3 linked regions of the Homo sapiens genome follow. The protein of the gene in region 2 interacts with the protein of the main gene of each other region in a pairwise test. Each region holds a gene or a part of one and is shown on either strand. Other genes may lie near its edges.

What was found. Proteins that work in one complex are often made in the same cells at the same time.
Region 1: the proteins of SH3GLB1 (region 2) and DHRS1 interact in binary tests that used the Homo sapiens proteins (3 or more experiments, as listed by UniProt).
Region 3: the proteins of SH3GLB1 (region 2) and SYP interact in binary tests that used the Homo sapiens proteins (3 or more experiments, as listed by UniProt).

Annotation. Positions count from the first base shown.
Region 1 is NC_000014.9:24,296,687-24,304,156, forward strand, and holds the start of DHRS1 (dehydrogenase/reductase SDR family member 1), read right to left. Parts: upstream 3,095-7,470; 5' UTR 2,895-3,094; exon of another isoform or gene 2,445-2,894; 5' UTR 2,421-2,444; coding exon 2,271-2,420; exon of another isoform or gene 1,928-2,270; intron 196-1,927; coding exon 52-195; intron 1-51. Other genes in the region: NOP9 (nucleolar protein 9), read left to right, coding at 3,269-3,515, 3,722-4,171, 4,884-5,036, 5,279-5,420, 5,546-5,738, 6,388-6,528, 7,046-7,171, 7,355-7,470. UniProt on the Homo sapiens protein: NADPH-dependent oxidoreductase which catalyzes the reduction of steroids (estrone, androstene-3,17-dione and cortisone) as well as prostaglandin E1, isatin and xenobiotics in vitro. May have a role in steroid and/or xenobiotic metabolism.
Region 2 is NC_000001.11:86,742,531-86,748,864, reverse strand, and holds the end of SH3GLB1 (endophilin-B1), read right to left. Parts: intron 5,738-6,334; coding exon 5,630-5,737; 3' UTR 681-5,629; downstream 1-680. UniProt on the Homo sapiens protein: May be required for normal outer mitochondrial membrane dynamics. Required for coatomer-mediated retrograde transport in certain cells. May recruit other proteins to membranes with high curvature. May promote membrane fusion.
Region 3 is NC_000023.11:49,187,221-49,190,324, forward strand, and holds the end of SYP (synaptophysin), read right to left. Parts: intron 2,063-3,104; 3' UTR 595-2,062; downstream 1-594.

The sequences.
Region 1 (7,470 bases), on a different chromosome or scaffold from region 2:
TCTGAGGGGGAGGTCAGAAATGTGGAGTTGGGAACAAAGTTCAAAGGGTACCTGGACCCCTGCATAAGCATTGTTGACCAGCACATCTAGACGCCCTTGCTGTTCCCGATCCACTTGCTCAAACAGGCTTCGCACTTCACTCTCCTGGCTTGAATCGCACACCACAGGCACACATTGGCCCCCGAGGGATTGTGCCTGGAGTAGGACAGGGGATATGAGCTCACATTCACACATGGGTGTGAGTCATGACAAAACTCCCCAACCAAAGTGGGCTTGAGAACTGAGAAGACAATCAATCCTAGGAGAGCCTGCTGCAGAGGCAACATGGCAGGCAACGCTGCCCTCTGGTGTCTGTTTGAGTAGTTTCAGGAATGATAGGCCTCCCCACCACAGAGCAAGGTGAATTGCAATGTAAGTTTTAATAATCTACAAACATTTACTGAGGCCCACCATGTGCACAGCATTGTACTTTGCAAGTAGAGGGTAAGAACAAGTGAGGCATGGAGTCTGCTCTTGAGAAATGAGTAAGCATCCTTTTCCTTGTTGTGGTCATTTCCATCTCTCATGCCCTTAGCTCCCACCCTACACTACTCACCTAAAACCTCTACTCAGTCCCAGTTGTCTTACCCTCACTCCACCAATGCTCCTGGTTGGTAATTGAAAAAACCAAAGCTATCAGCCATGAATGATTTCTACTTCCTGTTCTGTCTCACTCTCTACAAATGCCCACAAACCTCCAACTTCAGAGGAAGAAGAGTCCTTTATCTAAGAACAATCCTCCTATTCTCCAAATTTATGCTCTGGGTCCCCGCCTATTACCCTCCTTGCCTGAACTACTGCAATGCCTCCCAACGACTCACCTGACCTCCAGTCTGTCTGCCTTAAATTAATTCTTCATAATCCAGCCAGTACGACCTATCTAAAACACAAACCCTGTTCAAAATCTCCTAACTGGATCTCCATCTCTTAGAGGATGAAGCCTGAGTTCTCTATTAGGGTCTTCCAAGACCCACTCTTTCCTCTCCAGCCTCTCACTCACTACTCTTCCCTTGCATTATCTCACACATCTACTCTTTCACACAGCGTCCCTATGCTTATGGAGCTCCCTCTGCTGGAATGCTTTTCCTAACTTCCTTTACCTAATTCTTACCTTTCAAAACTCAGTTCAAGAACCACCTACCTCCTCCAGGACGCTTTCCCAAACCACTTTCCCTAGCCACTCTCCTATGTCATCTGGATGCTCCCCAACACCCCTAGAGTATTCTGTGCATATCTCCCTCTTATAATTTACCATATTCACATTACATTGAAGTGACTGCTTTCTGTACCTGACTTCCTGTTGGAATCTATCTTCATTTTTAATTAAAATTTTTTTTTTTAGAGACAGGGTCTCACTGTCACCAGGCTGGAGTGCAGTGGTGCAATCATAGCTCACTGCAACCTCGAACTCCTGGGCTCAAACGATCCTCCTGCCTCAGCCTCCCAAGTAGATGGTACTACAGGTGCAGGCCACTGTGCCTAGCTAATTATTTAAAAAATATTTTTTGTAGAGACTGGGTCTAGCTATGTTGCCCAGACTGGTCTCCAACTGCTGGCCTCAAGTGATCTTGCTGCCTTGGCCACCCAAAGTGCTGGGACTACAGGCATGAGCCACTGTACTCCACCATGGACTGAATCTTTGAAGAGCAGAAATTAGATTTTATTAGTCTTGGTAACTTCAGTGGTTTACCAATGCCTAGCAAATCATGGATACTCAAATATTTATTTAACTGAAGTCTAGTAAATAAGTAAAAAATGTGCAGTTCAATAAAGTCTTGCCTGAAATAGAGGAAAGCACAGGTCCACAACCCTTTAGTTGCAATTCCAAAATCTCTGCTCTCAAACAAAAAGTTTTTTACTTTTCTTTCTTTTCTTTTTTTTAATACAGTGTCTCGCTGTGTCGTCTAGACTGGAGTGCAGTGGTGTGATCATGGCTCAACTCCTAGGCTCAAGCGATCCTCCTGCCTCAGCCTCCGGAGTAGCTGCTGGGACTGCAGGAACGTGCCACCATGCCTGGCTCAAACACAAAGTTTTTTCATAAAACTCACTTGGCGGCAAAATTCTACCTTACCTGAAGTTATTTACGGGGTTTTTAATTTCCACTTTGAATAAATATTCACATCTTGTTGAGTAGTATTATAGTTTCAGGTAAGGGATTAGGAAAGGAGCTGTTAAGTGGAAGGGCTCTCTCGGGTGGTTTCTGCAACTGTGGTCCCAGAGGAAGCACTCACCTCCTGAGCAACAACGCGAAGGGTGTCCAGATGGCGGCCAGTGATGTAAACTGTGGCGCCTGCTTTGCAGAGCTGCAAGGCAATGCCACGGCCAATACCCCTGGAGGCACCAGTCACCACACACACTTGGCCATTCATGGGAGCTGCCATGACTCACAGGCAAAGGAGGCAGGTCTGTGGAAGCAAAGACTTACTCTGAGGGAAGCCTGGAGACTGTGTGTGTGTTGGGGCGAGGTTGGGGGGTAGGGGAGAACCTCACTAGGGCTAAGAGGAGGAGCCAAGGTAAGAATCCTTTGAGGGGAGAGGAGTCAGAGGCTGACAACTGGGTGCGGGCCTGAGGACAAGGCTGACTGTCTTTTGGGAGGCCCAGAGAGTGAAGAAGGGGCTGAGTGGGACTGTCCAGAGGTGGACAACTACTACAACCCTCTGAGTGTGGCTGCCTGGATATGGGAATCTGGCGCGGCAGCCCCTCGGGGCGCGTCCACGCAGAGTCCTGGGCTATCTGAAGCTCCGGTCCCTGGCCTGACCCAGTCCGGCTGAGCCAGAGGCGCAGCTTCCGGGCCGGGGATGAGCGCGAAGCCTGGAGATCCTAAGCCCTAAGTGGGACGAGCGTGCGCCGCTTACCTGCCACCTGCGCTGCCGCTGAGGTCTGCAGATTGCGGGGCTGCGGTGGAAGTCTGGGTTCTCGCCCAGATTGAGCCGGCGACGTGGAGGCAGTGTTCAAGGATTGATTCTGTAGTAGGACCCGGGGCGATTCTGTGCTGAGGTAGAGGGGCAGAGTCCCAGGCCAAAGTTAGAACCTGCGGATGGGGGCGGAGCGATCTGGGTGACACACCCACCCCGCCCGGCTGGGGCGGCGCGGAACTATGACGTAGTAGCTGCGTCAGGAGCGCGCCCGCGTTTCTAAACTTTGTCTGGATAAGGCGCACGCTTGGCGACGTCGAAGGTCCGTCCGCAGTTAAGGAAGCTTTTGCAGCCGGACAGGTCGCGAAGCACACATGGGGCAGGGTCCGCGCTCTCCACACAAGGTGGGGCGCCGGTTCCCAGCTGGTGGCAAACGGGGGCGCGGGGCCAAGGGGTCGGGGCGCCCCTTACCAGGCCGTAAGCGGCAACCCTGGCCGCCTCCGGATGGGCGCTCGGAGCCGGCTCCAGATTCGCACCCGCACCTGAGCCCGGAAGCTCTGGGATATTTCCGCCGGGCGCTGTCAGCATTGAAAGAGGCTCCCGAGACTGGGGAAGAACGAGGTAGGCAGCAACTTCGGGGTTTAGACCAAGAGCATCAAATCCAGGGCAGGCAAGGAAACTTTCTAGGGTCGGCAGGGCGTGGGGACTTAGTTTCATTTCCCATGTCCTCTTCCTCGGCCTCCGACCCACGACCCTTGGTTAAGCGAGGGTACATAACTGTATTCTCTACTAAGTCTCTTCAAAGTGTGTCTTTCTTCCCTTTTCAGATCTGATGGTGCACAATATAATGAAGGAAGTAGAGACTCAGGCCCTAGCTTTGTCCACGAACAGGACTGGCAGTGAGATGCTGCAGGAACTGTTGGGATTCAGTCCCTTGAAACCGCTTTGTCGCGTGTGGGCTGCTCTGCGCTCTAACTTGCGCACTGTGGCCTGTCACCGATGCGGGGTCCATGTATTACAAAGTGCTTTGCTACAGCTCCCTCGATTGCTGGGGAGTGCTGCAGAGGAGGAGGAGGAGGAGGAGGAGGATGGAAAGGATGGTCCCACGGAGACCCTGGAGGAGCTGGTCCTGGGACTAGCCGCTGAGGTGTGTGATGATTTTCTTGTCTACTGTGGAGACACACATGGCAGCTTCGTGGTCAGAACTCTGCTTCAGGTGTTAGGAGGGACTATTCTGGAGTCTGAGAGAGCCAGGCCCCGTGGTTCCCAATCATCTGGTAAGTATTACAAGAGGAAAGTGGACCTAGGGGGAAGAAGAATTTAGAAAGTTCAGAATGAGACAGTAAACAGAAGAGTAAGTCTTCATGGGGGAGCTTGACCGGGAAGAATTAGCTTGACCTGTCCTAATCTGAACAGGGCTTAGCAAGCCAAAGATTAGTGTGTGCGGAGGCCCAGAGGTAGGGATGTACAGTTGTGTTTGGGGAAGGCTATTAGAATGGACGCAGGAGGAGAATTTTTTTTAAGCATGACTTAATATACAAATGGACTTAAGCAAAAGTAACATACACACTGGACTCAAGCAAAAGTTCAGGAAACTATACCCTTACTACATGCAGCCCACTCTGTTATTTTTTTTTCCTTTTCAAAACTATTCTGCTCTATTTCATTTAAAAAAAATGCTAGTTGAGACCACTAACTTGATTTCATGGTACAGTCTTGAGCTGTGATCCACATTTTGAAAAACTAGGAAATAAAGTTAGCGAGTTTAAATGAGGCTTTATTTTGGAATGGCTTGAATACCTGGCTGAGGAGGTTGAACTGTCTTCTGTGGACCATGGGGAAGCTGGTTGAAGTTTCTTAGAAAAATTAAGACAGAAATGTAGTCTCAGTTCAGTCATCCAGAAGAGACATTTAGTTGTACTACATCTGTTCTGCATCTCCAAGCGGAATCCTTGTTCATCTGTGAAATTTTTCTCTCCTGGATGGCAGTTTGTGATCTCCCCACTGCACATGTTCTTAATCTTCCTTCAGAAGCACAGAAGACCCCAGCTCAGGAATGTAAGCCAGCTGATTTTGAAGTCCCTGAAACCTTTTTGAATCGCCTTCAGGACCTGAGCTCCTCCTTTCTGAAGGACATTGCAGGTAAGGAGGGAAGTAGGAGGATGGTCTCGTATCTACTTGTCTGGAGGTCATCTTACCACCAAGCAAGGCCCTTACCTCAGGTTATTCCTCTTCTTTTCAAACCTGGTCTGGTTTGACGTTCAGAGCACTTTGTATAGTCCCTTTGTGTCCATAGTGCCCTGTATCTTGTTGCCTAAAGTTTGAGGTTACGCAGGTTGTCTGGATTTTGGGAAAGCCGCTTTATTTCTGCCCTCTCTCCACAGTGTTTATCACTGATAAGATCTCCAGCTTCTGTCTTCAAGTGGCTTTACAGGTTTTACACCGCAAACTTCCCCAGTTTTGCGCTCATCTCTGCAATGCTGTGATTGGCTACCTGAGTACTCGCGGTTCCTCAGTAGATGGCAGGTATGGTCAGGGCCTCAGGATCGACCCAAGTTGGCGGGGCTGTGTGAAATGAATGAGGTGATGTAGTGCAACTGTATTTTGCATGAAATGGAGTTAAGACTGCCTGATGCCCTTCTTGTCCCTAGTCCCCTACTGCTATTTCTCCGAGATCAGACGAGTTCCAGACTCCTGGAGCAGGTCCTGCTGGTGTTGGAGCCCCCAAGACTCCAGAGCCTCTTTGAGGAGCACTTGCAGGGGCAGCTGCAGACCCTGGCTGCACATCCCATTGCCAACTTCCCTTTGCAGCGCTTACTGGATGCAGTCACTACCCCTGAGCTGGTGAGTTGGAAACCTGAGCTGGATCTGTTTCTGCTAATTCTTGATCACTGGACCTTATTTTATGGTCTGTCTGCCTCTATATACCTTTGACATTGTGCTGGCCATTGCCCTTGAAAAGCTATTCTTTGAGGTTTTCCAGAGCTTAGGATAAAGGTGCCCACCTTCTAGTGAGGATTTGTTTTGACTTCTCTCAGGTATGAGGACCAGCAAGAAACTGGCTTTATTCAGGTTTACAGCTTGAGGTTCCATGGCCCACCCAGACTCTGGTACTTGGCTATAAGCCCACATGAGTGCTAGAGCTGTTGCCATAGCTTCTCTTTTCCTTTGCTGCTTAGGACTAAGGTGGGCTTCCCTGTGGTCTCATGCATTGGGTGTTAGAGTGGAAGTGCAGTTTAATTTTAGTCTCCCCTTGCTCCTAGTGCTCCCTTACACATAGGGAAGAGCCACTTAAAGTTCCTTCCTGTGAGGTGGCACCTCTAAGACTGCCCCCTTATCCTGGGCCTTATCTAGCCAAACAAAAGTCCTGATACTGGCAATGCTTTTTATGTTTTATCTAGCATTTTTAGTTGTTTTCGTTGGGAAGATTTCTCTGAATAATGTGGTCCGCCATTACCAGAATGCCAGAGTTACATTCCATGTTTCCCATCAGCTGTCCCCTGTGTTTGAGGAGCTGAGCCCTGTCTTGGAAGCTGTATTGGCCCAGGGCCACCCAGGGGTAGTCATTGCCCTGGTGGGGGCCTGTCGCAGAGTTGGGGCCTACCAAGCCAAGGTCCTACAGCTCTTGTTGGAGGTGAGTGGATATTACCCACAATCTGTTTATGCCCTCAGTTCAACTTCTACCTTTTAGGACTTATCTAATCTTAAGTTTTTGTACCTCTGGACTCAGGAAGTCTAATGCCCAAGGAGTTCACAGGAATGGGGGAAAATGAGGCCTATAGGTGCCCGCCACCATACCCAGCTAATTTTTTTTTTTTTTTTTGAGACGGAGTTTTGCTCTTGTTGCCCAGGCTGGAGTGCAGTGGCGCAATCTCAGCTCACCGTGCCCGGCTGAGGCCAAATGTTATTTCACAGTCCTGGAACAAAAATTGTCTCCCAGAACTAAGAGAGAAGTTTATTTAAGGGATAAACATTTATTAACCCCTGTATGTGATAGAGGCTGGGGATACAGCAAGGCATGACATCTGCTTTCATGGAGCTAACATTCTTGTGGAGTTGGGCCTTCTTTCCTTTCCTGAAGGTGTTCCCTTAAAGTTGAGGTAAGGGACGGAGAAGTTCTCAGGTTCATCATATTCTGTCTTCTCCTTTAGGCATTCCACTGTGCAGAGCCCTCATCCCGGCAAGTGGCCTGTGTGCCTCTCTTTGCCACTTTGATGGCTTATGAGGTGTACTATGGACTGACGGAGGAGGAGGGGGCAGTGCCTGCAGAGCACCAGGTGAGGTAGGGGAGAGGCCAAGCCAGTGACTAATTGGGAGTCAGGCCTCCCAGGGTTTAGCAAGCGTCTGACTTCTGAGGTGAGAGTGGTGACTTCATCCAGGTGGAGGTGGCAGTGTTCTGGGGATGGGCTCATCCACCTGGCTTGTTGGTGCCTCCTAATTTCTTATCTCTGCGCTGCCAGGTGGCAATGGCCGCAGCCAGAGCCTTGGGGGATGTGACAGTCCTTGGGTCTCTACTGCTCCAGCATCTGCTGCACTTCTCCACTCCTGGTCTTGTACTTCGAAGTCTGGGTGCCTT
Region 2 (6,334 bases):
TAATATGGTTAATCCTTTCAATGCTACAAGGTAGGTTTATAGTATTCTAATTCTAGAGATGAGTAAGCAGGCTCAAAGTGGGAGAGGTTTAATGACTGACAAAAGGCCAGGAAAACAAGTGGGAGAGCCACTGTTCTGCCTACCTTCCAAAATCCTACTTTCCCCACTACGGCTACATTCCCTAAATCCATCAACAGTACACCTGCATCAAAGATACCTCAAGATTCAAGTCTACTTAAGATTGTTCTTCTACTGTCTTTGCAAATGTCAGAAAGGTAATAATGCTTCCAGGAGACTGAATAAAAGCAAGAGGCAACTAGTACTACAAACATTTCCAAAGTAATACAAAATATATGATAAAGAGGGAAGAACAGTAAATGAATGTCATAATTTAAGAAACATTTAAGACTGGACTTTAATTTTGCAGGATCTTTTTATCTCCCTCTTACCCTTTATTTTTAAACCAAAGACTCCAAGAACATTCTAGTTGGAAGCCCTCCAAAAGAAACAGTATTCTCTCATATACTGCTGATAAAAGTATAAATTGCTTAGAGTTTTCTAGGGGGCAACATGGCAGTAACAAAAGCTTTTAAAAACTGGCATACCCTCTTCACTAGCAATTCCACTTCAAAGCATTTATCGTGAGAAAATATGAACACATACGAGATTTAGCAACACAATGTTCTTTAAAGCACTTTATTAATGAAAGTTGGAAACCTAAAAATTGAACAGTAGTTTAATAAAATGTGGCACATATGATGGAATATCATGCAGCCATTAAGAGATGTAGAAATATACTTGACACAGCAAGACAGTCATGGTATTGTTGAGTGAAAAAAAGTTACAAAACAGTATGTACACTTTGATCCCATTAAAAATATCTATAAATGCACAGAAAAGTCTGGAAGGCCATATACTTAAATAACAGTGGTTCTCCCTGGATGATGGAATTATCAGTGATTTTTCTTTCTCACTGAATCTTTTTTCTTTTTGCCAACAGGGCTATGACTTGTATTATAAAAAAGCATTAACAATTCTTTAAAAAGTGTCCTTTGAAGTAAGAATGAGAGCAGAACTTAGCAATCTAAGAGGCACAGGGATGTACACATGGTTTCTGATACTGTTTTAACGGTTTGTCAAGGTGTTTTGATGTTAGTCACCAATTAAAAGGCACTGTGTTGAGTGAAAACGTGGATGGTGGTAGTGCTTACTTTAGACTAAGCAATCCATTCCTAGAAACCTTCCACAGCAAACAAGTACTGGCATTCTAAGCAATACTTCCCACTATGATATCCTTATACCTTCCTACCCACTTGTAATACAGCCCAGAAGTTTCCCCTACATGGACAGGGCACTGTTGTTGGTTAAGGGTTACAGAAGGCAGAGAGGATTTTTCAAGTGATGTCAGAGAATAGGCCTGAAGGTGAAATGAATGTTCTCTTAGTTCTATTGCAGTGGTTCTCAAGCTTAGAGTGCAACAGTATTACTCAAACAGCTTTTACAACAGATTGCTGGGCTCCACTCTCAGAGTTTGATTCAGTAGGTCTCTGAAAAGGCTTATAAATTTGCATTTTTCTTTCATTCAACAAAAATTTATTGAGTTCATACTATGTCCTAGATCTTGTGCTAAGAGTTGGGAATGTAACTGCCATCAAAAGAATTATAGTTTTTATCTCAGGGAGCCTACATTCTAGAGTGACAGATATACACTAAACAAATAAATTATAAAAATAACTATAATTACAATGACTACTGCTAGAACACAATTAAGATTAGAAGACTCAGTTTTTGTCTTAAAATATTTAAAAAGCTGTCACATGGAAGACTGATTCCATGAGCCCTTGAAAACAAAAAATAAGTAAAAATGAAGGTAGAAAGTTCTTGAAAATAGTAATCAGCATTTTAAACAAGTCTCCAGGAGATGCCAATATTGCCGGTCTGGGGTCTCACACTTTGCCAATCACTGCTCTACTGAGTAGACATTTTTTCTTTCCTTGAGACAAGAGTCTTATTCTATCACCCAGGTTGGAGTGCAGTGGTGCAATCTTGGCTCACTGTAGCCTCTGCCTCTGGGGTTCAAGTGATTCTCCTGCCTCAGCCTCCCGAGTAGCTGGAATTACAGGTGCACGCCACCATGCCCGGCTAATTTTTATATTTTCAGTAGAGACAGGGTTTCCCCATGTTGGCCAGGCTGGTCTCGAACTCCTGACCTCAGATGATCCACCCGCCTCAGCCTCCAAAGTGCTGGGATTACAGGCATGAGCCACGGCACCCAGCCCTGAGTAGACTTTCTAATGAGCGTAATATGGGAGAAAGGGCAGGGGTGGTTGTGGAACTCTCTCTCCAGCGTTTGAGACTCACATGAGGTAAAAGCCACTTCATCTTATCTGGAGGTCTTGAGGCAAAGTTGGCTATAGGCTAAACTATGAAGCTATCTCTCCATTACAGCACCTCACTGAAGCTTAAAGTGCTAAATAGTAGGGCAATATTTCAGAATTTCAGGTGTTTGGGAGATAGGGAAGGAATTTTTCTGGAATTCTGTCAGCATGGAGGTGAGTGGGGCCTCTATGGGTAAACAAGTCTGTGGGTTTTTGCCTTGCCCTCCATTGTCTTCTCCACTCCACAGTTTATCCCAGAAATGTTTCCCCAACACTAGCTTCCCAGTCTCACTTTGTTCTTTGTTCAGGGGGAGGATAACAGGAGACTATGAAGATGACTCTACCCCACTGGTGATCCTGGCCTCAGGATTTATTTCCCATGTGACGCAGAGTGAGGAGGCACATTCCCATTTTTGAGACCTCATTTCTTGCAACATCAATTTTTCTGATTAGCACCATAAAAAGTTTTAACACCATGACCGTTTAGGTTAGATTACTTTGAGGAAAAAGGTAGACACAATCCAATCACTTTTTTTTTCATTTATAGAAGAGCCTACAATTATTTTAGTTTTTCATTCATATGTGCATCCTTCACATGTCACTATACTTTCAGATTAAGCTCAGTGGCACAGAGCTTATTTAAACAATTCTGAACTGCACCATGAATTAATAGGCTTCCCAAGCTTTTTCTTCCACGCCCAAGAAACTTCAGGCCTTTACCTGAGTAAAAACTAAACTTGACTTTAAAATAAGCCAAAACCAAAATAAAACCCAAACAACCAAACCCCATTAAAATAAAAAGCAATAAACCTAAGAACAAGCATATATATTGTGGTGGTTCTGTGGTAGACAAACGTACCAGAAGCCTTTGAAGCTTAACATTATTGAAGGTTTCTGTACATTACTGGGTAACTAAAATCAACTTTCACTTGATGGAAAGCTGAAAGTTCTGAAAAATGATTTATACTGACTGTGGGAAGGTTAAACCTGGGGTCTGATTTAAAGAGGGTGGAGGATAGGATTGATAGAGAGAAAACAGAGCCCAGATGTAAAAGAGGTATCTCTGGTGCACAGTGATATGCAAGGCCTATAGACTTGGTAGGTCAGGATGCTACAGGGGCTAACAAGGGGAAACTGATATTTACAGGATGTGTTTACTATGTGCCAAGCCTTTCCCTGAAAGGCACCTGAAATACAAGATAACATTTGCTAATCCTCACAACCACCCTATGGTGTCATAATTATTGTCCTCATTTTACTGGTAAGGAAAAGGCAGTTATACATCTCATTTGAAGCTTAAAGAGCACAATATGTGAGGAAGACTGGATTTGAACCCAGGACCATTTCACTCCATTACCGATATTCTTTCCCCTGTATTACTACATTTCCCATAAACCTAATTCATAGTTGCTGTTTAAGTCGATCTGAAGTTTTGGTATGATCTTTCAAAGCCTAAATCTGGACTTATAAAACACAATAGATGGTACTCTAGGCTGTAGAACTTCCTTTCTGAGGGGAGAGAAAATTTCATTTACTTGGTTTTACAGAAAACTGACCAGCTTGAGCAGCTTTTCAGGGTTTCTTTAAGAATATGGCAATTGAGAGTGAGTCAAAACATCTTGTACAACTATAAAACTGCAGAAGAATTTGTCTCATGGCACAGAAATAAAAGGGTAACTACTACTTTTAAAGTTTAGACTGTGAGTTAAATTGTCAACATGTTTACCAAGTTCTTATTAGGAGCTCTTAACACAAAATTTTAAAACGGTGTTTAAGTATTCATTTTTTTAAAAGTACCAAAAAGTATCATTTTAATAGCTTAACATTCCCTCAATAAATGAACTATACTTTTGTACTTCATGCTTAAGTTAGAGTAAATTGCTTTAGTTGTCAGAATGTGCTATGCTATCTTGGTTACACATCTTTTTATCTGGAACAGTTCTTCCCCAGACCCTCTCTCACTCCCAAAACTGGAGTTACATGACTCCCAAATACAGTACCTTGTATTTTCCCCATCACACCACGAATCCTACTATAGGATAATTGCTTAATTTTCTGTATCCTTTAATGGTCTTTAAGCTCTGCAGGGGCAAGAACTGTGTGCATATTGTTCAGGACAGTATCCCCAGTTGACCAGCACAGTATCTGGCCCTCAACAAATGTTTGTTGAATGAATGAATTAGAACAGAAGTCTTAACATGGAAACAATGATTTATAGCAATGGCCCCAACAGCAATTTTCTAGCTTCCAATGTGTCACTAATAATTTCATTAGTATGTGTTTCATAAGCAGAGATCCTCATCAAGATAGCCTGTGTTCATTAATAAATTTTCAATGTTTTAATAGTAAGCTCAGAGTGACCCAATTTATTTTGTTCGTATACAATTTATAATGTAGTTGCATTATTCCGTATTTGTATACAAATCTGCTGTTCAATAAGAACACATTCTCTTTACTGTACCACAGTACAGTAAATGGATCCAATCCCAATTATGCATTAAATTGTGCCAACTGAATAATCTTAAAAACTTTATGTTTAATGAAGTAAATTTGTCCTAGATTTTCTAGAACCTTAACTACAAATTTATCAGAGAAATACGGTATTGCTTTTCAAGAACTAGTTGTTCTTAAATTTAAAAGAAACCATTCAGTAGTGTTTAAAAAACCAAACAACTCTGAAAATAACCCATCAAAACATAATATTAAAATCATTTGATTTCTGTTGGAAAACCAGGTAAACATAGTTTAAATGCGTTTTTGTCTATGAAAGCATTCAGAAAATTCTACTTTTCACAAAAGAGGTTTATATCCTACAGCTCTTTTTAAGACCGAAAGTTTAAAATAAATTTTAATTTTATTCTTTGGCTATTATTTATACCTAATAAATGAGTCGCTGATATCAATTCACAATAGATTTATTTTACATAAAAGAAAAAGCTTGCTGTTAATGAAAAATCCAGTAGAAAACAGTTCTGCTTTAAGTTGAGGCTCAAAAGTAGAAGCTGCTTATTAGTGAAACCTCAATAAAAAGAGAATTTTGTAAGAAAACATTCTTGGCATGAAAGCTCTAACATAAATTCTGTAATGAAATATTTACCATGCAACTTTATTGGCAGAAAGGCCAGTTTCTGATGGCTGGTATTTTCAGTCTCTTAACACATTAACATGGAAGATACTTAACCTGCTTTATTTAGAGTTAATTGTATATAAATACAAAGTCATGATGGGCAACCTTTCCATAGTCCACCTACTTAATTGAGCAGTTCTAAGTAGGTAATTGGCACCTTGCCCTTCTGGTTTCCCCTTTCCCCCATTAGCCAGTCTGAATCCATTCCAACAACACTGAACACAGTGATCACCTGCAAAATAAAATACTTCCAGTTATTAACTACATTAAAAAAATAAACAAGTAGAAAACCAATCAGATTTGTATTTAATTTGTTTAAATTATTCACCAAAAGGACTTTAAACGTTATTATCAATTGTGCTGAAAAACAAAGGATTTATTTATTATTATTAGTTTTTTGAGGCAGGGTCTCACTCTGTTGCCCAGGCTGTAGTGCAGCAGCATGATCACGGCTCACTGCAGCCTTGACCTTTCGTGTTCAAACGATCCTCCCACCTTAGCCTCCTGAGTAGCTGGGACTACAGGCGCACACCACCATGCCCAGCTAATTTTTCATATTTTTTGTAGAGATGAGGTGTCGCTATGTTGCCCAGGCTGGTCTTGAACTCCTGGCCTCAAGTGATCCCACTGCCTTGGCCTCCCAAAAGTGCTGAGATTACAGGTGTAAGCCACCATGTCTGGCCTAGATAAAGGATCTTATTGGAGGGAGTTTTATACATCTTCAAGTTATTTGGCAGTTAAAAGTTTTAAATATTTCTATGATATTCTATTAAAGAATATTAATTAAAATTTTATGTTAATATAACTATCTGTAATCTATGAAACCATT
Region 3 (3,104 bases), on a different chromosome or scaffold from region 2:
GGCCCTTCATCGCGGGCCCCGGGGACCTCTCCCCGCCCCCCATTACACATGTCCCTGTCACTTCCCGTGGAGTGGAGAGGTAAAAGAGAATAACTAATGAACTAAGGAGTCACCCCGGCGCCCCACCTCCCCTCCTTGCCTAACCTGTCTCCCATTTCTCCAGCCTGGGCGGAGGCAGGGAAAGGAGAGACAGTAGGGTCTGAAGATTAGGGATGGGGTCAGGCAATGTGAGGTTTCCTCCTATTCGGACCCCTTGGGGATTTGAGGAGAGGGTTCCACAGGGGCTCGGAAGAGGCTTGGCTAAGGGACCAGAATTAGAACCAACTCCTAGAAAGACCGGGCATTTGGTGGCCAGTAGTGGGAGGGTGAGCAGGGCTACTCAGAGAGTGACAGAGTGATTGGCAGGAGAGGCTTCCCAGAGGATGCTGCTCTGCCTAACACTTTTGAAGGGGCCTGAAATGGTGCAGCAAGCTGAACTGCGGTCGGTGGGTCCGGGTGGAGCTTGTTCTCACCACCTCTCCCTCCTTTCTCCCCCGGCCAACCTCCTCCCCGGCGCCCGAAAAAGACACACTGAGAAATCAGAGCCGGGTAGACTAGGTGGTTAAGGAGTTTATTTGGGAGAGGAGAATCATATTTGTTCTTCCTTGGGGAGGGGGGTTCTTTGAACAATACCGAAGGGTTTGGGAAAGGGTAGGGGTCTGGAGGGGAGAAGGAGGGGCCACAGCCAGACAAAATGGCAACACACGATCACAGGCACTACTGACATCACAGACATAGCAGAGGGTGCAGGATAGGGGCTCCAGACCAGGCCTCCAACCACCCCAGGACGGGTGGAGGTGTGGAGGGAGGGAGGGCGCAGGGGAAGGGGGAAGAGGGGTGGGCCAGTCCCACAGACCCGTTGGTTCTGTCCTCCTATTAACCTAGCTGTTTCATCACGGGAGTGGGGAAGGGTGTGTGTGGTGGGGTGCTTCTCTCTGGATCCCACGCCTCACCCTACAAGCCATATCACTCGACTCTTCTCAGGCCACTTCCGTCCCAAGTCGTAGCCAGAGCCATTCTCCCCCACCCCTAACAAAACCCATCTGGAAGCTCCTATCCAAGTCCCCTCTCCACTGCCCAAACCCAGCCATTGTAAAACATTTTCTTCACTGCACCATGGGGAGGGGCTGCCCTTTCTGAAACCACCATGGAAGCCCCATTCTAAGCCCCACCCTGTCTGGAACCCTGGCTTGGCCCATTCCTGAATCCCACTTCTTGCCTTGCTCAAGATCTGTCCCCTTTAGAATCAAGCTCAGTCTCCCAAATGTTCCAAGCCACACCCTTTCCATAGGCTCTGGTACCAATCCAAGACCCACCTACTCTGGAGCCCACCATTCTGCCTCGCTTAAAGCCTCGCCCCTTCTAGAACCCTGCCCTCAGCGCCCTTCCAAGCCCCACCCCAGAATGCTCTAGCGCACTCCTCTCCTTCAGACTCCAGATCCACTCTGTCTGGAACCCAACCCCCCTGCTGACCCCTCCACTCCACACCTCCTCTCCAAGACCACCTTGGGTCCTAAACTGTCCTCTCTACCCCAAGCCCCCCCAATCTCTGCCTTTCTTTAACCCTGGAGTTGGATTTCCCTAACGGCCTTTGTTCAGGCAGGCATTGCTGGAGGAACCAAGGCCAGAGTTGGGAGGAGTGGAGGGAGAGAGAGGAGAGAGTCTGAAGTCACGCCCACCCTCCCCACACAGCCGAGGTCTGTTCCCTCCCTGTCCTCCTTTTAGATCCCCTTAACCTCAGGGGACAGGGAGGGTAAACAGAGAGGGGCCAAGGGATGCAGGGAAAGGGACGGGGTAAGAGAGGGGGCCCACTCAAGACTGGGCACCTAGTGGATGAGGGGAGTGGAGTGAGGGCAGGGCTCAGACAGATAAATAGATATTTATATATAATATATATATATATAAACAGCAAAGACAGGGTCTCCTGGCTTGAGGGGTGGAGACCTAGGGTATAGGGGTGGGAAGGGGGGCAGGCCTTCTCCTGAGCTCTTGCCCCCCCCAGGTCCTCCTGGGCTTCACTGACCTGTAGAGACAAAAGACACAGAAAGGAGAGGGGGTCTGACATGGGTGGCGCCCTCAGATAGGGGTTGGGCTGTTATGCCTTTGTCCTGGCTTTATGTCTTTTCTTCTTTCCTGGAGCCAGCTTCATCCCAGCTGCCTCTGCTGAGAAGATATACCTGACCTTGCCCCCACTGGGTTAGGTACCAAAGAGATTACAGTCTCCTTCCTCCAACCAAAAAAATAGTCCCTTAACAGGTACTGTTCTAGCCATTTGTGATAAACTATATTGAGCAAAACAAAGATCCCTGTCTTTGTGGAGCTTATACTGAAGCAGAGATAGACTTCACACAGCGAACATGATGCATGAGTGGATTATCTCGTATAACATAGGGTGACAATAATAAGTGAAATGGAAAAAATAAAGTGAGCTGGGCATGGTCGCTCACACTTATAGTCTCAGCTACTTGGGAGGCTGAGGTGGGAGGATCACCTGAGCCCAGGAGTTCAAGTCTAGCATTCCTAAAGTGCTAGGATTACAGGCGTGAGCTACCACGCCCAGCCTGCGACAGGGCAGAGTTCTGACACAGGAGGACTGTGGCCTAATTTAGGATTTAACAGAATCCCTCCAGATGCTGTGAGTAGAACAGAATGGAAATGGAGACCTGAGAAGAGGTCTGGGAGAGATGACAGTGGAAGATGAAGGATATATTTTTTGAAGGTAGGACCCACAGGATTTTTTGATGAATTAGATGTGGGATGCCCTTTCCATCCTGGCTAACCCAGTGTCAGAAGCTACCTCCATCCAAGTATTGCCACCTTCTTGCCTTCCCCCACTTTTTAGCCACCCCTTAGCCTTTTCCTCCTGCCTTTCCTCCCCTATATCCTCCCTCCTATCTGAGGGAAATCTCACTTCTCTTTTTCTTTTTTTTTTTGTTTTGAGACAGAGTCTCGCTCTGTTGCCCAGGCTGGAGTGCAGTGGCGCAATCTCGACTCACTGGAACCTCCGCCTCCCAGATTCAAGCGATTCTCCTGCCTCAGCCTCCAGAGTAGCTGGAACTACAGAC